3 linked regions of the Homo sapiens genome follow. The protein of the gene in region 1 interacts with the protein of each later gene in a pairwise test. Each region holds a gene or a part of one and is shown in the gene's direction. Other genes may lie near its edges.

Region 1 (7,025 bases):
CAAAACAAAAACAAAAAAGACACCTTGGGTGATTGGATTGGGAAACCTAGGGCTAGCTGCAGGGATTTCTGCAGTGGGAGGCTTCCAGTAGAAGAAAAGGAAGACATCGTAGGTGGGCCCCTCGACTGTGTATCCTAAGGAAATGAGGCATGAAAAAGGACTTCACCTTTTTTCAGTGGCTGTGGTGGGCCAGATGAGCACTTGTGGCTGAGAGACTCCCTCTTTGGAGAGAGGTGTTCTCAGATTTTCCTCACTTTGGTTTTATACTCTGTATTAGAGGTTTGTTTGGGTTGGCAGCTTGCATCTTCTCTTCACTCTGAGCTCTTTCTGCAGTTTGAAGAGTGATAAAAAGGTCAAGGACTTTCTTATTAGCAATGTTGATGGATGTGGGTCGTGGGTTTATTGCTTGTTTTGACTTCTTTTAACAGCTTTTCCTTTTTCTTCTCATTCTTTCTTTAGTGAATCAGTTTATCAGATAGAACTGTAACTTCTTGTTGCACATTGGCTGTATATATTGAACATGTCCAGTGGCATAGTTTAACTTTTTTTCCAGCCTATGCCTAACTGCCAGGCCATCTTCCAGATCAGCATCTTTCAGACTGCTATAGAATCCTTCCTGCTGATGGCCTTTTTAAAGGCTTGGCAAAATTTTGTATTCATCTTCTTCTTCTTTTTTTTTTTTTTCGAGACAGGGTCTCCCTCTGTCGCCCAGGCTGGAGTGCATTGCCGCAGTCTCTGCTCACTGCAACCTCCACCTCCCAGGTTCAGCTGATTCTCCCACCTCAGCTTCCCGAGTGGCTGGGACTACAGTCGTGTGGCCACCAAGCCTGGCTAACTTTTGTATTTTTAGTAGCGATGGGGTTTCACCGTGTTGGCCAGGCTGGTTTCAAATTCCTGACCTCAGGTGATCCGCCTGCCTCAGCCTCCCAAAGTGCTGGGATTACAGGCATGAGCCACTGCGCCTGACTATAATTCATCTTCTAGGGGTGCGTTTGGGTGTGGTGATCCGTGGGCCCTTTCAGCTAACTTCCTTGCTTGTTCTTTTACCTCATGCATGACTGTTGTTTCCATGGAGATTTTCTGGCTAGCGTACACGCTCTCAGTTGTGTGTCAGCATCTGAAAGTACTGTATACTTTTCACCTTGCTTATTTTTACTTTTTTTTTTTTTTTAAATTTTGGAGGCGAGGTTTTGCCAGCTTGGCTAGGCTCGTCTCAACTCCTGGGCTCATGTGATCTGCCCACCTTGGCCTCCCAAAGTGCTGGGATGACAGGCGTGAGCCACCACGCCCGGCCTTCCACCTTATTAAAAAAATTGGGCCAGGCGCGGTGGCTCACGCCTGTCATCCCAGCACTTTGGGAGGCCAAGGTGGGTGGATCACAAGGTCAGGAGATCAAGACCATCCTGGCTAACACGGTGAAACCCCGTCTCTACCAAAAAAAAAAAAAATTAGCCAGGCTTGGTGGTGGGCGCCTGTAGTCCCAGCTACTCAGGAGACTGAGGCAGGAGAATGGCGTGAACCCGGGAGGCGGAGTTTGCAGTGAGCTGAGATTGCGCCACTGCACTCCAGCCTAGGCAACTGAGCGAGACTCCGTCTCAAAAAAAAAAAATTACGTATACAGAAAAGTTGAGCGGACAATACAGTGGATGTCCATAGTACCCACCACTTAGATTCCCCAGTGATCTTTCCCCATATTTACCTTATGTAAGGATGAGTGTTGTGTGGTTTTTCTTTTATTCTTGTGGAATCAATTCAGAATCCTTTGTGTCTTGTCCAATGGACTTGAGTGTAGCCCTCCCTAACATGAGTGAGGTGTGCTTTTGCCTGTCCACACTTAGAAACAGCAGGTCTCTAATTTTAAAAGTAGCTCCTATTTACATTTGCCCAGTTACCCCCTAAGTTTTAAAAAACGTTTGGAATCAGAATAATGTACTCAGCATCACATAGTGAATTTTTTATAAAGTTGAATTTATGTCTCTTATCTCTTTCAATCTGTAGCAGTCTTCCTTGTATTTTTTAATACTTTGACTTCAAAAGAGTGATTAGGAAACGTTTCAGATATTTACAGAAATACATGGGAACATAATTCCCACTCACACATTGCCTTGCTTTAGCACAAGTACATGGGAATATTCCTACTCACGGCCGGGCGCGGTGGCTCACGCTTGTAATCCCAGCACTTTGGGAGGCCAAGGCAGGCGGATCACGAGGTTGGGAGTTCGACACCAGCCTGGCCAATATGGTGAAACCCCATCTCTACTAAAAATACAAAAATTAGCTGGGTGTGGTGGTGCACGCCTGTAGTCCCAGCTACTTGAGAGGCTGAGGCAGAAGAATCTCTTAAACCTGGGAGGTGGAGGTTGCAGTGAGCCAAGATGGTGTCAGCACTCCAGCCTGGGTGACAGAGCGAGACAGCGAGACTCCATCCAAAAAAAAAAATTCCTGCTCACACATCACCTGGCTTAAGCACAAGTACATGGGAATATACTTCCCACCTACACATCACCTGGCTTTAGCAGTTACCACCTTATGGCTGATCTTTTTCATCTGGGCCCCTGCCACTTTCCTCTGTATTATTTTGAAGCAAATCTCAGACATTATATTCATCAGCTTTTTAAATATTATCTTTAAAAGATAAATTAGAACTGTGTCATTGTCACACCTAAAAATTTTTTTTATCACTACTGAGATTGTAATCAGTGTTCATATTTCCAGTTATCTGTCATGAATGTTTTTAATTGTATGAAGAAAGGGAACCCTGTGGGTTTGTTTGTTTAAACTGTTGGAAGTTTGGAATGAGATTCCCAACTTTGAAGTCTAGCATCTGTTCTCAGGATGTGACACACAGAGGGTAGCTCTATGTTTTGACATTTTTATAAAAAAAATATCATCTTGGTCAGATAAGAGTTTGGTGACTCCTGGGAGGATCTCTTTTCAGGCTAGTGGAAATATGAGGCAGAAAACTGGGATTAAGCCGTACAGTGGGGATCCCATTCGGCAGTGTCTCCTTTAGGTACAGCTGAAGGTACCCGCTGGTGTCTGGCTGCTGCATGGTGGTGGGAAATGAAAGAGGTGGTGTGGCTGGGGAGAAGGGAGCTATCCAAGATGACCCTTGACGTCCCTCATCCCCACAGTTTCTTTCATTTGAGACATCCTTGCCCCACCTGCCCCTCTCTGAGCTGACTCCTCATTGCTTGCCAAGACTGCATAAAATGCTGCTATGTTGGTGGTTTGTTTTCCTGTGATTTCTTTTCCCCCTGAAGCCAAGCACCTTATGGAGAGGGCTGGATCTGTCCTGATCATCTCCGCTGTGACAGGGCATGGCCCCATGTTGATGGTGAATAGCCTCTCTGTGTTGGTACAATGCCCCAGTCACCATTCACTAGTCACATGTGTGCCCGCCACACACCATGCTTCCTTTTTGCATTTCTTCCCTGAGTTAGCTAGTCACTTAGGGGGAATTGGACTGTCCCGGGTCTCCTGGGAGTATCAGTACATGGCCGGACACACTACCTTTTCCTTTATAATTCTTTGATGGCATTCACACTACCTTTTTCTTTATAATTAAAGAAAATGTTATACAACCTCGTTGTGGCGTAATTGGCATACAACTAAGTGTACAGATTTAAAGCTTCAGTTTGATGAGTTTTAACCTGTGTACACCTGTGAAGCTTTCCTTTTCACTTTCCTTTTTTAGCCTTCTTAAAGACGAGGAGATGAGCAGCCAGAGAAGGAAACTCTGTAACTGCTCTTGTCTTGAAACTTGCTTTTCCAAATCCTAATGGAAAATCTGCGTATTCTGCTTTCCTTTGGCCAAGCACCAGTATTAAAAAGTTGTTGTATTCAAATTTTGGCAGTGTTTCTATTTACGGTTAACATAGCGGTGAGCGAATTTCAAAATACAGGGAGCCCTGGAGGAATCTTTTCTTTCTTCAAATGGAGACTAGCTGAGGTTGGGAGTTGCTTGGTTTGGGTAGAAGGGTCAGGACTCTGGATGCAGACAAATCTGGGTGTGAGCACCCGCTTTGCTGCATAGGACAGGACCACCTGTTGTTTGGTCTGCTGCAGATCTCAGCCACAGCACCTCCCACCGTGAGACCATGAAAGGGCATGCAGGGGAGTATGAGAAGGCTGATGTTGAAGGCTTCGTGTTGCTTAATTGATACAGTGTGCAGTATTTAGGTGAAAAAGCCCAGACTTCACCACTGTGCAATATATCCATGTCACAGAATTGCACTGGCACCCCAAACAAAAGGCCCCAGACTAGTGAATTTCCCAGGGGGCCAATCATTCTCTTTCCCTTTCAAATTAAAACAAAATATATGGACCAGGCACATATATATATACAGGCTCACACCTGTAATCCTACTACTTTGGGAGGCTGAGGCAGGAGGATCATTTGAGGCCAGGAGTTCCAGACTATCCTGGCCAACATGGCAAAATCCCGTCTATACTAAAAATTACAAAAATTAGCTGGATGTGGTGGCACATGCCTGCAATCCCAGCTACTCGGGTGGCTGGGGCATGAGAATTGCTTGAACCCAGGAGGCGGAGGCTGCAGTGAGCTGAGATTGCACCACTACACTCCAGCCTAGGGAATAGAGCAAGACTCCATCTCAAAAAATAAAAATAAAAAAAAAATACACACACGTACATATTGCTAACAGCCCAGTTGTGTAAAATTTTTTAAAAATTAACTTTAATTATTATTACTATTTTTCTGAGACAGCGTCTTACTTTGTCGCCCAGGCAGAATGCAGAGGCATAATTACAGCTCACTGCAGCGTTGACCTCCGGCTCAGGTGATCCAAAATTCTTTATACTCAGCTCATTTTTTCAAACTTGAGGTATAATTTATGCACAAAACACCCACATATTAAGTGCTCAACTGGGTGGGTTTTGACAGTTGTACATGCCCATGGAACCACCACTCCAAATAAAACATGGAATACTTTGATCATCCCAGAACGCTTTCTTCGCCCTCTCCCCTCTGATTTCCGTCACCGTAGGTAAATTTCTTTGTTGTTAGGGAATAAACGGGATCATTGCTCTATGTGCTGTTCTGTTTCCAGCTTCTTTGGAAAGCTCAGCATGTTGTGAGATTCATCCATGTTTTTTCCTTTTGATTGCTGAGTAATGTTTATAGAGACATATCATGATTTATCCTTTCTCCAGTTGATGAAGATTTGGATTAGTTCCCATTTTTGGCTACTAGGAATAAGATTGAACACTTTTTACAAGTCTTTCGTGGACCTGTGTTTTCATTTTTCTAGGGGAAGTTTTGGGAGTGGATTGCTGGATGTTGCGGGATGTGTCTCTGGCTTGCAAAGTTGCACTGTCTGACACGGACAGTGTGTGAGTGCTCCACCCCTCCTGCTCTCACCCATGGGAATGTGAGATGCCATAAGCACTTGTATGGAGGTCTGATTTACATATTATAAGTTAATCCTTCTCAGTGTACAGTTTGGTATGTTTGGACAGTCATACACAGCTGTATGACCGTCACCACATTTGAGTGAATGCACTCTTTGGAAAGGTTCTCGCATGCCCCTCTGGCCCCTGGCACCATTGCTGGGGTTTTGATGACTCTGGATTAGGTTGGTCTTTCCTAGAGCTTCTGTCAGTACATGCATCCAGCATGTGTCCTTGTATCTGGCTCCTTTGACATGGTGTGGCTTTGTGATTCATTCATGTGCTTGTATGGATCAGCAGTTTGTCCCTTTGGCTTGCTCAGTAGGATTTGTATGGATGCACCACAGTGTGTTTACCCATTTGTCTCCTGGTGGGCATCTGGGCCATTGCCAGCTTTTGATCATTGTGAATATAGCTGCTGTGAACATAGCTGTCCAGAGACCCTCTCCCTCCCCTGAGACCAAACCCCTCTTCTCTGTTGGGGTCAGGAAGGGACACCTAACTGCTTATTCAGCAAACTCAACCACTCTACTAGATGGGGTCTCTTTATCTGCTTCTGGAGACGGGTTGGTGGCCAGCAGTTTGCAGGGCTTTGGGGAACGGCTCTCTTGGTGCCAGCTGCTCCTCGCTGCTGGCTGAGTGCCTTCTTCTCGAGTCTGCTCAATCATCCTCCACTTCAGCTTGCCAGGCTTCAACATGCTGTCTTCTCTTCCATTCTTGGTGAGTTTTATGTCTTTTTTCTCTTAATCTGCTTTATTGTCATTTTCATGTCATTTTGTGTGGGGACAAAAGCAAGTATGTGTGTTCAGCTTTCTCCCTTAACCCAGAGGGCTTTTTACCATAGAGTGCTTAGCCAGTCCTGGTGCTGGGCAAGTTTCTCCTGTTTTTGCTGTAACAAACAACACTATGATGAGCATGCTTACAGTTAAGTCTCTGTGTGTGTATAGATCCATGTGTATTGCTTTAAGACAGACTTCTAGAAGTGGAATTGTGGGATTAAAAGGCATATATACTTTAGATGCCAAGTTTAGCCCCAGGAATGCCATACCAATTTAAATTCCAGCAGGACAAGACAGTTTTTATTTCCTGTCCTTGTGTGAGCATTCCATCTGTAGAACGTTCTCTTTTGGTATTTTTTCCTCCTCCCCAACACCCTGCCACCACACACACGTGCATGCACACACGTACACAAAGTAAGAATGAAGTCAGATCTTAGTGGAGGAGAGTGGGGGCGGCAGTGGCAGCAGGTCTGGCGAGTTGCGTGGGGCTGACACGCAGCTTAGCTCCTCCCTGCCTGTGTCCTCTCCCTGCGCCTGGACCGGCTTGGGTGAACTCAGGCCATTGCCTTCTTTGTTCCAGGTTACACTCCTGGCACACCTTACAAAGTGTCCTGTTCCCCCACCAGCGGGGCTGTGCCACCGTACTCCTCCTCCCCGAACCCCTACCAGACTGCCGTGTACCCTGTGCGAAGTGCCTACCCCCAGCAGAGCCCGTATGCACAGGTATGCTTGGGTACACACTGCTGTGTGGGAAGGGGTGATACCACCTGGGCGTTCATCCTTTGGCCCTGGGACCCTGTGTCAGTTGTCTCTCTTCTCCCCACAGCAAGGCAC
Region 2 (7,025 bases), on another chromosome or scaffold:
AAACCATGGTGAGACCATGGTGGCTGGAAGTAAGTCAGCAAGAGAGGGCAGGGTAGGTCAGAAGGTGAGGTCAGAGAACCAGTAGTAATAGATCATGGAGGGCCTTGGGGTCCATGTTAGGATTTTGTATTTTATTCTTAGATGGAAAGTCATTAGAGATATTTAAGCTGCTCTGACTTTCAGTTAACAGAATTGGCCGGGCGCGGTGGCTCACGTCTGTAATCCCAGCACTTTGGGAGGCCAAGGCGGGCGGAACACGAGGTCAAGAGATCGAGACCATCCTGGCCAACATGGGGTGAAACCCCGTTTGGGCCAGGCACGGTGGCTTACGCCTGTAATCCCAGCACTTTGGGAGGCCGAGGCGGGCGGATCATGAGGTCAGGAGATTGAGACCATCCTGGCTAACACTGTGAAACCCCATCTCTACTAAAAATACAAAAAAAAATTATCCGGGCATGGTGGCAGGCGCCTGTAGTCCCAGCTACTCGGGAGGCTGAGGCAGGAGAATGGCGTGAACCCGGGAGCGGAGGTTGCAGTGAACCGAGATCGCACCACTGCACTCCAGGCTGGGGAACAGAGCAAGACTCCATCTCAAAAAAAAAAAAAAAAAAAAAAAGAACTAACATTGCTGAATAGAGAATAGATTGGGTGATAAAGGGTAAGCGTGGAACAGACCATTTAGAAGGCTAATAGTAATCCCATCTAGAGATGATGAGATGACAGGTGAAGTTTGTTACCTGTTTCCAAGGCTTGAGAGACTCAATTAAGAAAACATCACTAAAGCCCCTCATACAGCCCATTTCACAGTTTTAGCTCCCAGTACTTGTTAATTCTCTTCCTTTCCTTGGAGTTTGCCTTCAGCTGTGTTAGGGTCTTAAGGGAGAAGTTATTATGTAAAGATCAGCATCCAGACCCCAACAGAAGTCTCTCTTTTTTTTTTTTTTTTTTTTTTTTGAGACAGAGTTTTACTCTTGTGGCCCGGGCTGGAGTGCAGTGGCGCAGCCTCTGCTCACTGCAACCTCTGCCTTCTGGGTTCAAGCAGTTCTCCTGCCTCAGCCTCCTGAGTAGCTGGGACTACAGGCATGCGCCACCATGCCCAGCTAATTTTGTATTTTTAGTAGAGACAGGGTTTCACCACGTTGGCCACGCTGTTCTCGAACTCCTGACCTCAGGTAATCTGCCCGCCTCGGCCTCCCAAAGTGCTGGGATTACAGGTGTGAGCCACCGTGCCCGGCCAAGACTTTTTTTTTTTCTTGAGGCACTGAAGTTGGCTCACTGTGTTCATTCTGTTTTCCCACCCACCAGAGATCTTAAAAAGACTGACGCTGTGCCAGAACTCTTGGACAGCTCTGTTCTCATTAAGGCATTCAATCTTCAGTTCTTTCTGCAGTTGCTATCTTAGACACAGTTTGAGCAGCCTCTTTTACAAAGTGTCTTTTCAGCTACCTGGTCTTGGAAGCAGGAGCCCTCTGATACTCATCATGACAAGGTAGTTTAATATACCTGAGAGAGCCCTCTCAAGAAAATAAGGAGATTTTTGTCGTCTTTAACTTTTGAGCTTTTCCCCCACTCCTTTTTTGCTGTGATCTAAAGCCATAATTTGCCACCTTGGTTTCTGAAATATGGGAAAAGAAGTTCGTGTACTTATTTAGGAAAATCGTATTTCTGTTACCTAAGGAGCTTGCATTGTTGACAGGGCTTCTTTCGCTACAGAAGGCCCCATCAATGTCTGCTTGCTTGGGCTGTGTATGTCTGGTTGGTAAACATCACTAATGAAACTCGTGCGGTCTTGACATGTCAGGATTGCCTGCACGAAGAGAGCTGCTGGCAGCCTTTCTCCTTGCTTTAGTCTGGGAGCAATGCATTTCTTTTGAGGGGGTGGGAGAGGTAGTTCAGGAGGTCTAATTGCATGTCAGGAAGGGTGAAGCCCCAGAAATTTGCAAACAGAATTTGCTTTAACAGTGGTTAATTGTGCCTCCTAGGATGCTTTCCTCCTTCCATTTAAAAGTGAGTTCGGCCGGGTGCGGTGGCTCATGACTGTAATCACAGCACTTTGGGAAGCTGAGGCGGGCGGACCACCTGAGGTCAGGAGTTTGAGACCAGCCTGACCAACATGGTGAAACCCCATCTCTACTAAAAGTACAAAAATTGGCTGGGCATGGCGGCATGCGCCTGTAATCCCAGCTGCTAGAGAGGCTGAGGGACGAGAATCGCTTGAACTCAGGAGTCAAGGGTTGCAGTGAGCCAAAATTGTACCACTGCACTCCAGCCTAGGTGACAGCAGAACTCTGTCTTAAATAAATAAATAAATAAGTAAATAAATGTAAGTTCATGGCCGGGTGCAGTGGCTCACACCTGTAATCCCGGCACTTTGGGAGGCCGAGGTGGGCGGATCAACTGAGGTCAGGAGTTCGAGACCAGCCTGGCCAACATGGTGAAACCCCGTCTCTACTAAAAATACAAAGAAATTAGCCAGGCGTGGTGGCGGGTGCCTTTAATCCCAGCTACTCGGGAGGCTGAAGCAGGAGAATCGCTTGAACCTGGGAGGCAGAGGTTGCAGTGAGCCAAGATCGCACCATGGCACTCCAGCCTGGGCAACAAGAGTGAAACTCCGTCTCAAAAAAAATAAAATAAAAGTGGGTTCATATTACTGGCTCACAAGTCAGACATTGGGTACCTTTGCAATCATATAATGTGCTGCTTCTGAAAATGTCTGGCTGGTCTCCAACCAGGCCTATAAATGGGCTGGCTGAGCCAGGCCCTATGAGGGCCCACTCTCCTCAGGAATACTGAGACATTATAAATGCACCTGTACTTTCCAGTTGTATGAATAGGTGCTTTCCAGTTTTATTTCTCCCATCCATACATCTGTGGTAACTGAAAAATCATTTTAACCATAGTGATATTTGACAGCAAATTGTCGTCACAGATAAAGATGTAAGTATACTTTCAACCAACACACTGCTAATTAAATTGCTTTATGTGTCTAAACTTGGGCCTCACGCCAGTCATATCCAGTGTTCCTACTCTCTTCTTCGAATGAGTTGCCTTGTGTTTCATGACCTTGTTTTTGTTCATTACAGTGTGAGCCACTGCCCCATGTTGTGTTGATGCCAATCTGCCATGCTAGCCTGTCTACCAGGGCCAGGTGACCTGTCCTTTCAGCTTCTTTCTCACACGCAGATGAACACTGGACTTCAGAAATGTAAGTAATCTGGATCCTATGGAGCATGTGTGATTCTTTGTTTTTGTCTCTACATTTGGGCCGTCCTTGAAGCACATCTGGGGTACACTGACCTTGAATTTTGACACCTTTCTTTTTTTTTTTTTTTTAAGACGAAGTCTTGCTCTTGTCACCCAGGCTGGAGTGCAATGACGCGATCTTGATTGGCTCACTGCAACCTCTCCCTCCCGGGTTAAGCAATTCTCTTGCTTCAGCCTCCCGAGTAGCTGGGATTACAGGTGCCCACCACCATGCCTGGCTAATTTTCTATTTTTAGTAGAGATAGGGTTTCACCATGTTGGCCAGGCTGGTCTCAAACTCCTGATCTCAGGTGATGCCCCTAACTTGGCCTCCCAAAGTGCTGGGATTACAGGTGTGAGCCACTGTGTCCAGCCATTAGGGGTCTGCTTAAATTCTGTAATTCCCCATTGTATCTCAATTTTAATTGTTGCTGATAGCTTTCTGTTGAACAACAAAACTATAAAGAGCTTCAGGGGAAATATATATATATATATCACCCTTAAAAAAGGTGTTTCAGTTTGAACCTTCATAGGGAATTGAATGAAAACTCACAGTCCAGATTACTTACTATATCTCTGAAATAAACTATGCTGTTCTCTTGTTTTGAACTCTCTTAGTAGTCTACCATGGAAACAGACAGTTCCCTTTGGCTTTGCTACCTGCCTTCTGAGTCAGTGTGACTTTAGTTCACAGGAAGTCAGGGAGCTTTTGCCCTCAGAAGAGATGGAGAGCTAGCTTTCTCAGTCTCTCTGGGCATTTTCCTGCTAATACACTTCCCAGAAGATTGAGCCTTTGAAAACTGTTAGATTCTTGTCTTAACTTTCTGGAATTGGGGTTTTATACTTCATATTTTCCCGGACTCCTTCCTACCTTCTCTCCCTGTAATACATGATCTGCAAGGAAAATATTCTATTCTTGGCACATTACCATGTATAGTATCTTCAGGTGTAAAAACAGCCCTAAATTTGGAATAGACCTTCCATTCAGAGCACAAAGGGGAAATCATTGAGGTGGCTAGGCTTCCCTTTGATAGGAAAGGTGCTTCAGCACCTTAACTGAACCCCTTATGACAGGGGTTAACAAACTTTCTGTAAAGCCCAGATAGCCAATAATTTAAGCTTTGTGGGCCATGTGGTCTCTGTTGCATCTACTCAACTCTGGCATTGTAGGGCAACGGCAGCCACAGACAATAAACAAATGAGGGTGTCTGTGTTCCAGTGAAACTTTTTTACAAAAAAACAGCAACTGGACCAGGCACGCAGGCTGTCGTTTGCCAGCCCCTGCCATGTGAGAACATCATCAGAAGTTAAAAATGGTCCAGCCTTTAGACTTCATTTCTTTGAGAGAGCGTAAGACTCAGAGCCTGGCTAGTTCTGGAATTTGGCCAGTGAATCCAGCTCTATGTAATAACAGCTGAAGGTGGTAGTCCTCCTTCTACAGTTGCCTGACACAATAAGGCAAGCTCTGCTATAGCTTTCTCAACCCATCCTTTATCTTAATAAGTGATGATTGGGTGATGAAGGTGTTATGTTATACTCTCTGGTCATCCAAATCAGCATCCTAACTGCATCGTGCCTATTTCTGGGCTTCTGGGGACACAACTGGAGAGGGAACGTACTTAGAGGCATGCAGTAAGATGACAAAGAGAAGCTTCCTTTGTTCTGGGTTCCTTAACACACTCTGACAGCTTTACCCAAAGATGTGATATCAAGGGAAAAGCCATTTGGAGGACGGGCAAATTGGCAGCTTTATCTTGGTGTTCACTTTTATTATTTTTATTTTTTTTTTAATTATTTTTTTTAGATAGAGTTTTGCTCTTGTTGCTAGGCTGGAGTGCAATGGCGTGATCTCGGCTCAACGCAACCTCCGCCTTCTGGGTTCAAGCGATTCTCTACCTCAGCCTCTTGAGTAGCTGAGATTACAGGCATGCACCACCACGCCCAGCTAATTTTGTATTTTCAGTAGAGACAGGGTTTCTTCATGTTGGTCAGGCTGGTCTCGAACTCCCGACTTCAGGTGATCCGCCTGCCTCGGCCTCTCAAAGTGCTGGGATTACAGGTGTGAGCCACCACACCCAGCCCACTTTATTTTATTTTATTATTTTGAGGAGGACTTTTGCTCTTGTCACCCAGGCTGGAGTGCAGTGGCACGATCTCGGCTCACTGCAACCTCCGCCTCCCAAGTTCAAGTGATTCTCCCGCCTCAGTCTCCTGAGTAGTGGGATTACAGGCATGAGCCACCATGCCCGGCCCTTTTTTTTTTTTTTTTTTTTTTTGAGATGGAGTCTCCCTCTGTCACCCAGACTGGAGTGCAGTGGCGCAATCTCGGTTCACTGCAACCTCCATCTCCCGGGTTTAAGCAGTGCTCCTGCCTTAGTCTCTCGAGTAGCTCAGATTACAGGCATGCGCCACTGGAAATTTTTTCTTTCTTAATCCTAAACCTCTGCTCTGTATTTCCCCTTCTCAGGATCACAATATAGTAGTGGCTCTGTAAATATTTACTGTTTGAATAGCTGATAAAAGGTCCTTGGTCCTTAAACCATCTTCAGATAACAACTTTGATTTCCTTCCATGGCAGAACACTGGGGCTCTGGGGACAAATGCCAAAATTACCTTCTTTTACTGCTTCTTTATGTGCATATCTGCCCCCTAGTGGAGGGGTCTGGAAATGGCAGATTGACCCAATGACTGGATAAAGTCATAGAAATAATAGCTAACATTTGTCAAGTTGCTACCATGTGCCAGGCACTATATTGAATATTTTCACATATGTTGTCACCCATTCCTCAAAAATTCCATATGGAAGACTCTCTTGCCTTTGTCAGAAGGATAAGGTATAGAGAGAGGGTTTGTCACTTGCCAGTGCCACATGACAGTCCTGTGACTGGCCCATACTCAGCTCAGACTCTGAAATCTGTGTTTGAACACATTGCCTGTGCCTCTCTGCCTACAGATAGAGGTTCCTGTTGCCTATGCCACCTGTGCCCTCTGACCTTCAAAACAGAAGGATGAACAGAGAGGTCTCCATTGGGAGGACTGAATTTCAGGCAGAAAATTGCCTCCAGTCCATCCTGGAATAGACAGCAGTGCTTTCTGTTACATTTAACTCTCAGGCTGAAGGCCAGGTTGTCCTGCAGTTGGGGCTTCCTTAGTCAGTTTTCTTTGTGTTGTCTGTGGTCAGACTCAGCCACATCTGCTATCCTTGAATGGTAACTATTGACCATCATTGTTTCATTTTCAATGAAAATGCTCATTTAGTGAAAATGTTCATTGACTCTCGATCTTAGTAATTCTGTGAAGTAGGAGAGCAGAATTCATCCCTGTTGATAATTGAGGAATGACAGGCTCTCAGTATGGGCAAATGATGAAGCTAGTACTTGAATACAGGTTTCTCTAACCCTTTACAAACTACAGATTTCCTATTCCCTACATTGTCTATGTCTCTATTAATGACACTATTGGTATAAGCTATTTAAGTAAGTCGCTTACAAAGCTGTGGTATCTGTGTTGGCTGTGTAGTTACAGAAATACATTACAGAAGAAAATAAGTAGTCAGGGTGCCTGTGTGGGGGCTGTGATAAGTGTTGAGAAAACTTTTTTTTTTTTTTTTGAGACGGAGTCTTACTCTGTCACCCAGGTTGGAGTGCAGTGGTGCGATCTTGGCTCACTGCAACCCTGCCTCCCGGGTTTAAGCAATTCTTTGCCTCAGCCTCCCGAGTAGCTGGGATTACAGGCACCTGCCACCATGCCCGGCTAATTTTTTGTATTTTTTTAGTAGAGAC
Region 3 (7,025 bases), on another chromosome or scaffold:
TTTCTAAGGGGCTTTAGTCTGGACAATGAATCACATATCCCCTCCTGGAAAGGCTGCAGTGAGGCAGCTCTGTTTCATTCTACTGCCACCGCCTCTGGTCCTAGAAAACACTGAGTTTCTGGTGGGGAGAATTGAGGGAGTGGGGAGGCAAAATCAGAGACAAATGCCCATTTCTCTTCCCCCCTCCAGAGAAAACCAGGGCAGAGAGGCCTGGGCCTGTGGAGCCAGAACTGGGTGGTGACTTTGTCTTTGTCATGCTGGGGTTGGGGAGAGGGAGTCCTTTCCAGCAGTGAGTGTGTGTGTGTGTGTACACACGTATGCATATGTGCCTGTGTGGTGGGGTCTGGCCAAGTTTCTAAAGTCCCTCTTGGTTCTCTCTTTTCCAGGCCTGATCACTTGAACGGACATATCAAGCAGGTGCACACTTCTGAGCGGCCTCACAAGTGTCAGGTAGGGGCTGGGTCAGGGCAGAGATGGGCTGAAGGAGATGATGCTGTTCTCACGGTCGCAGCCTTGAGCCAGCCGCTGCGTGTGCCGGGGGCCCGGCTGACCGCCCACCGCTTTGCACACCTCCCCTCTGTTCCTCCACCCTCCCTCTGCTCTCCTCCTTTGTTCTTCCCCCAGGCCCCCTTCCCCCACAGCTGACGTTCCTCCTTCCTGGTTGCTTGGTCCTGGTTCCCACCCTGTCTTTGCCTTCACTCTGTTGCTTGGCTTTCCTCTCCTGGTGTTTGCCGGCTCCTTGGATGGTGGGCCGTATCACACAGATGTTGTGTTGGGAGACCCGGCACTGCGCTGGGCCTGACTGTTGGTTTCCAGCAGTTTGTAGGGACTGCAGGTTTTTTTAAAAGGGCTCCTGGTGGTCCAGCCAACCACTCTTCCCCTTTTCTGACCTCAGTTAGAGCTCCTCCTGGGTCCCCTCAGCTTAGGGCACAAGGCAGTGGGGGAGGTAGGAGGTAGGGAGTGGGTGGTCCCCTCTCCCACACTGGCATCTGTTTAACCCATCCTAAGCCAGGGTTTCTGGAGGACTGGAGAGCAAAGTGGGCTCTTCTTCTTTTAGCTCTTTGCAAAGTAGCAGGTAGGAAACGCTGGACCAGATAGATTCTCACCCTTGGTTTACCTGCTTGAACAATATCTGGGGGCCCTGCTGGTACCCAAAAGATTGAGTTTCCTCTCCTGGCCACTGAGCCTTCCTGTGTGGATAGCGAACACACCTCTGTCTTCTCCTTGGTTATCTCCCCTCTCCCATGCCAAGTTCCCATCAAGTGAGGGCGAGCCATGATTGTGGGGTGTGCACTGCAGTCTCTGATAGGATAACCTGCTTCTCCTTATCCTGTTGGTGGCAAGGGGAGAGGGTTCAGGGAGACCAGCAGGGAGGGATGAATGTGCCGTAAGTAGGGCAGAGCCCCTGGGGGTCAGGCGTGGACGGTGTTCACAGGTGCTGGGCTAGGCAGTCTCCCTGGAGGATGACCCAGGGTGGGCCTGCTGGGATCTGTCTTTGCCTTGCTGCCTTCTCTCTCTCTGTCTCTGATTCTCTCATCACAGAGCACATTCTGACTCAGGTAGTGTGCTGATTAGCCCGGGCAGAGTAGGAGGAGCCCAGAGGGCAGTGGGGGCAAGCCCGGTGGCCTGGGGGGGTAACCTGCACTCTCTGCCCTTTTTCCAGGTGTGGGTTGGGAGCAGCAGCGGCCTGCCGCCCCTGGAACCTCTTCCTAGCGACCTGCCATCATGGGACTTTGCCCAGCCTGCTTTGTGGAGGTCGTCCCATTCGGTTCCTGACACCGCCTTTTCCCTTTCTCTAAAAAAATCATTCCCAGCCCTTGAAAACCTGGGCCCAGCACACTCCAGCAACACTCTCTTCTGCCCAGCCCCGCCGGGATATCTGAGGCAGGGCTGGACCACCCCAGAGGGCAGCAGGGCCTTTACCCAGTGGCCTGTTGGCTAGCCTGGGCCTCCCTGGAGAGGGTTGACAGTGGAAGGGAACAGGAGGGGCATTTGGCCTGAGACCCCTGCTTTTGGGAGAGGCTAGCAGGGTGGTTCCTGCCCAGCATGCCCAGCTCCTCCCTGGGTGACTCGGAGTCTTTCCCATGTCAGAGCCCCCAAATGGGGGTAGCAAGGAGCACCTTTCTGGAACCCCCTATAGCATCCAAGTTTCTTTCTGGGCTCTCTTGCCTTTTCCCCCCTTTCACAGATGGCACCCCTGGGCATCTGTCCTTGCCTAGGTGATTTTGGAGGTTGGTGCCTTCCTGGGAACTAGCCACCAGCTTATCTGCTTCCCTTCCCCTGGCATCACTTCCCATAGGCCTGGGGTTTCTAGACTGGGGCCTGGCCACCCCTTTCCCCACTCCACGAGTGAGTCGGCCTCCAGAGAAGACTGGCACAATTCCAACTAGAGTCAACCCATGCTGCCCTCTGCCCTTCCCACTCAGATCTAGATCCTGCTTTCATTTCTGGCTAGTGAAGTAGACTTTTGTGTTTTTGAGGTTTATTAGCAGGTCTGCTCAGGAACCAAACTAATGAGTAGCTTTATATTGGGCCACCCCAATATATGGCTTTGGGGGCTGAAAAAGCAGATGTAGACCCCCTCCCTCGGATCCTTATTGGTGTGCCCTTTAGCACTCCGCAGACTCTGCGGGGTGAACAGGAGTGATGATAAAATTTTTCATTCTAACATTTGAGGCTTTGTGTGTTTTGTCCTTGGTCTGTGTCATAACACTGACATCACTGTCCCTTGGTGTACAAATGCGCTCCTGCCCTGCCCCTCCCAACATACACTCTCACAGACCTGCTGGCCCCTCCTCCAGCCCTACAGCCACAACTCCCCTAACGGACCCAGCAGGTGAAGACATGCTGGCTCTCTTGCTCTGGGCTGGCCAGCCAGGTGTGCCTGGACTTGGTTAAACAGCAGGGGCACCTGTTGGCATAGTGTGGGGATGCTGAAAACATAAGAGGTGAAGAGACGGCTCTCTGGGAGTTCATTCCTTGAGTTCCCCACTGGCTAGGCACAGTCCGTATCGCTCATCCCCTCCTGATGCCAGAGAGAATGAAAGAGGCCAGTTACAGAGACTAGTGCCATAGCTTAAGTAGAAAGGCCATCTGAATGTAGGGGCAGGAAGCCTCAGGCTTGACAGTGGCATGTCTCTTTGGGACTTGGCCTGAGTGTCCTTAACTGGCCCAGATGCCCCAGGTACTGCTGGATTTATGAGCTTAGTGGGCTGGGACATTTCCCCCACATGGAGTTCAACCTGAAGCTGAGAGGCTGGAGCAGCTCAGACCTCCCTAGCTTCCACGGGCTCCACTTCTTGGGGGCTGGTTAGAGAAGGAATGCGTTGAGATGGGCATATGCTCGAGAAGAAGGGGGCCAAAGAGCCCAGGGAGCTGAACCTTCATGCATTGCCCTTAGAGTTTTCCAGGGCTGTGGGAGAAAGCTGCTTGAGACTACCCCTGAGGCTGCCTGAGTTCAAGGGCTACTAAGGGTGGGGGTGTGCACTAGTGCCCTTGGTACCACTTGGGCCCCATTCCCAAGCTGCTCAATCCTTAGGAAGAAAAGCTTTAGGAAGTCTGGGAAGGGAGCAGGACTGGGGCTCAGTGTTGAGTGGTGATGACCTGCACTCAGGGTGCCTGGGCCAGGACCTGGCAGGCATGGCCCTTAATTACAGCAGGCTGTCTAACTAAGCACAGGGCTGTGGGCCGGGCAGCTCTTCCGAGTGCCACAGGCAGTCAAAGCATTCTGCCTCTGGCTCACTCTCTTCCCATCAGCGTCCCTCTGTCTTCTCCCTGTCTCTAGGACAAAGAATGCTCTTCTCCTGACACCCCAGCATGGAAGTTCTGGATGTTCCCTTTGAGATCTGTCTCCCTCCGCCCCTTCTCTCCTGGGTTGTGTGACCAGGCTCTTTCATGTTCTGTGTTGTCTGAACTTCTGCTGTGCCTAGACTTTGGACTTTCACAGGCTCCCCAGAAAACCTGGGGACTGCAGCAGCAGAGGGTCAATCCTGGCACAGAGAAGCCAACAATCACTTCAGCTTGGCTTTGAACACAGGGAAAGCGTTTGTCATGTTTGTGTTTTTTCCCCCAGCAGCAGATTTACATTCCTAATTCTGTTTGCTCAGGCGAAAGTTAGCTTTCATTCCTTGAGAGATAATCAATGGAGGACAGGGTGGGGGAAGCCAGCCCAGTCTGGGATTTTAATTTTGCTTAGCTAATCCCCAAATGGATAAGCCACTTGTGGGTAACTGAAGTTTGGCTATCCATCATCTTTAGGTAGCAAAGCATGACAGGCAAAGCCTTTAGAGGACAGATCCCAAAAGAAGGTTGGCAAGAGAAACAAGGCATCTCTTTCCTATCCCTCTTGTGGCTCCCTCTCCCAGAGACTGTGGAAGACAAAATCCTGAATATGCTTTCAGCCCCCGAGTAGCTGGGACTACAGGCGCCCACCACCATGCCCAGCTAATTTTTTTGTATTTTTAGTAGAGACGGGGTTTCACCATATTGGCCAGGCTGGTCTCAAACTTCTGACATTGTGATCCACCCGCCTCGGCCTCCCAAAGTGTTGGGATTACAGGTGTGAGCCACTGCGCCTGGCCTCAGCCCTGTTTTCTTACACCTGATCCATGTTGGTTCCTTTGAGTTCTGAGGCTTAGAACACACCCTCTCTCACCATTGGAGGGGTGGTCTTTGGGTCGCTGCCTGGCAAAGCTAGCTCTTGTCCCCAAATAAATCAACAGGTGTACCTCTCTTTCCCGGGGGTGTTTATGCAGCCCCTGCTCTGGTTTAGAGACTGCTGGGCTGTGTAGAGGTTAGGAGTTTTTTTCTCCTACTGTGGCCTGTCACTGGGTCATGAGGTCCCTGGCTGACGTGGGGCCCACATGTGGCCATGAGAGCAAGCATCCATGGTGCTTTCTGACTTCCTACATGCTGGAATTTCCTTGCACAAATCTGTTCACCTTTCCCTTTTGGGAGTCCTGGCTGCCAAGTACTGTACACTGTGTTATAAAGTATGAGCACCTTTCACTCAGCAGAAGCTCCCTCTCCTGAATCTGGAGATGGTAAGAGCACAGGCTCTGGGACTGGTTCTTAGTCCAGCTGTCTCATATCCTCTCACGGCCTCCACTGGCCCAGCTGTAAACTGGGAGAGATCAGAATCCCCCAGGGTGTCCAGGAGGATTGGTAAAGTACTGGCCTGGGTGTGGTGGGGGTGGGTGTGCTAGACTTTCTTTAGTAGCTGAGTCTTGTGTTTTAAGCAAGTTCACCTTCTGAAGGTTTCCTCATTTATGATATGAATACACTGAATATATAAAACAGATAAAAGCAGTATGTCATTGCTACAAATTCAGTTCAAATGTATAATGTTTACTTAAAAAGACAATGACAGAAGAGCTAGGTAGGCTGTGCTAACGTACACAGATATTTGGGACTGGGGTAGTAAACAGTGGTGTCTTCTACCTTGACAGCATTGCATGCGTTTGTTTCTTGCTATGGCTGTACAGTAAGGAGACAGTTAGATGTCTGTATGTGTTGACAGTGTTCAGCCACTTACCTTGAGCTCTCAGGTTCTCAGGATGTGCTTCTGTTAAAGAGAGATGGCAGAGGCAGTTCCGTTCTAGCACAAGGTAATGGGGTGGTCTTCAGTGGGTTACCATTTGATCTGTGACACAAAGGTGAATGTTGCTTTCTCTTACAGTTCTAAAACAGTAAACACACACACACACAAAAGAAATGAGTCAAAATTGACTAGAACCCATGAAACACCTCCCTGGAACCAAAATAGCTTGAAAGCCAACGGATTCAGCTCTTCTCAGGGCTTTCCCAATATTCTATGACCCCCACAGCTGGAATGCCTTTGTAAGCTCCAGCTGAGGAAGGGATGTTGTGAGGAGACTGATCACTGGTACTAAGTCAGGTGCTCAGGTACAGGAAGTGCCTGCCAACCTGAGTCCTCCTTCCAGGGTGCTGGTTCTGACCTTCAGCTCCTGACTCATCCAACCCCGGGGGCCTGGCTGTGAGTTGGTGCTCAGCTCACACCACAGCTTTCCAAAGCCACGCTGTCTTGGAGGGTGATCACACAGCTTGCCTCGGAGGGCTGCTGTCAGGATGGGTTGCATGAGATAAGTGCCTCTAAAAGGCTGAGCACCGTGCCTGCCTGGCACACAATGAATGCTTAATCAATACAGGGTAGTATCATCATCCTTGCTGTCACCAGCACTTCCCCAGCTTAACGTTTCACAAATGCTTTTTTTTTTTGAGACGGAGTCTTGCTCTGTTGCCCAGGCTGGAGTGCAGTGGTGTGATCTCGGCTCACTGCAAGCTCTGCCTCCCGGGTTTATGCCATTCTCCCGCCTCAGCCTCCCGAGTAGCTGGGACTACAGGCACCTGCCACCATGCCTGGTTAATTTTTTTGTGTTTTTAGTAGAGACCGAGTTTCACCGTGTTAGCCAGGATGGTCTTGATCTCCTGACTTCGTGATCCGCCCGCCTCAGCCTCCCAAAGTGCTGGGATTACAGGTGTGAGCCACCGCGCCCGGATTTTTTTTTTTTTTTTTTTTTTTGAGAGGAAGTCTTGACTTGTTGCCCAGGCTGGAGTGCAGTGACACGATCTTGGCTCACTGCAACCTCTACCTCCCAGGTTCAAGTGATTCTCCTGCCTCAGCCTCCCAAGTAGCTGGGATTACGGGAGTCTGCCACCACACCCGGCTAATTTTTTATATTTTTAATAGAGATGGGGTTTCACCATGTTGGCCAGGCTGGTCTTGAACTCCTGACCTCAGGTGATCCACCCATCTCGGCCTCCCAAAGCGCTGGGATTACAAGCATGAGCCACCGCACCCGGCCCACAGACACTTTTGAAGCCTCTGGCCCTTGCTGTCTGCTAATTCTCATGTCGTCAGAATTGCCACTATCATTTAATGGGCTGCTTTTTCAATTCAAACTCGTGAAAATATTACGAATAATTATCTCTGCACTTTGTCCTGCCTTTCCTTTCCATTTCCCTGGCCAAGACTAATGTCACTTTTGAATAAAATGAACAAATAT

What was found. Proteins that work in one complex are often made in the same cells at the same time.
Region 2: the proteins of FAM168B (region 1) and FAM222B interact in binary tests that used the Homo sapiens proteins (3 or more experiments, as listed by UniProt).
Region 3: the proteins of FAM168B (region 1) and PATZ1 interact in binary tests that used the Homo sapiens proteins (3 or more experiments, as listed by UniProt).

What each region holds. Positions count from the first base shown.
Region 1 is NC_000002.12:131,055,442-131,062,466, reverse strand, and holds part of FAM168B (myelin-associated neurite-outgrowth inhibitor), read left to right. Parts: intron 1-6,771; coding exon 6,772-6,914; intron 6,915-7,017; coding exon 7,018-7,025. UniProt on the Homo sapiens protein: Inhibitor of neuronal axonal outgrowth. Acts as a negative regulator of CDC42 and STAT3 and a positive regulator of STMN2. Positive regulator of CDC27.
Region 2 is NC_000017.11:28,762,766-28,769,790, reverse strand, and holds part of FAM222B (protein FAM222B), read left to right. Parts: intron 1-3,083; 5' UTR 3,084-3,123; coding exon 3,124-3,205; intron 3,206-7,025.
Region 3 is NC_000022.11:31,336,322-31,343,346, reverse strand, and holds part of PATZ1 (POZ-, AT hook-, and zinc finger-containing protein 1 isoform long C), read left to right. Parts: intron 1-386; coding exon 387-450; intron 451-1,663; coding exon of another isoform or gene 1,664-1,942; exon of another isoform or gene 1,943-2,668; intron 2,669-5,325; exon of another isoform or gene 5,326-5,679; intron 5,680-7,025. UniProt on the Homo sapiens protein: Transcriptional regulator that plays a role in many biological processes such as embryogenesis, senescence, T-cell development or neurogenesis. Interacts with the TP53 protein to control genes that are important in proliferation and in the DNA-damage response.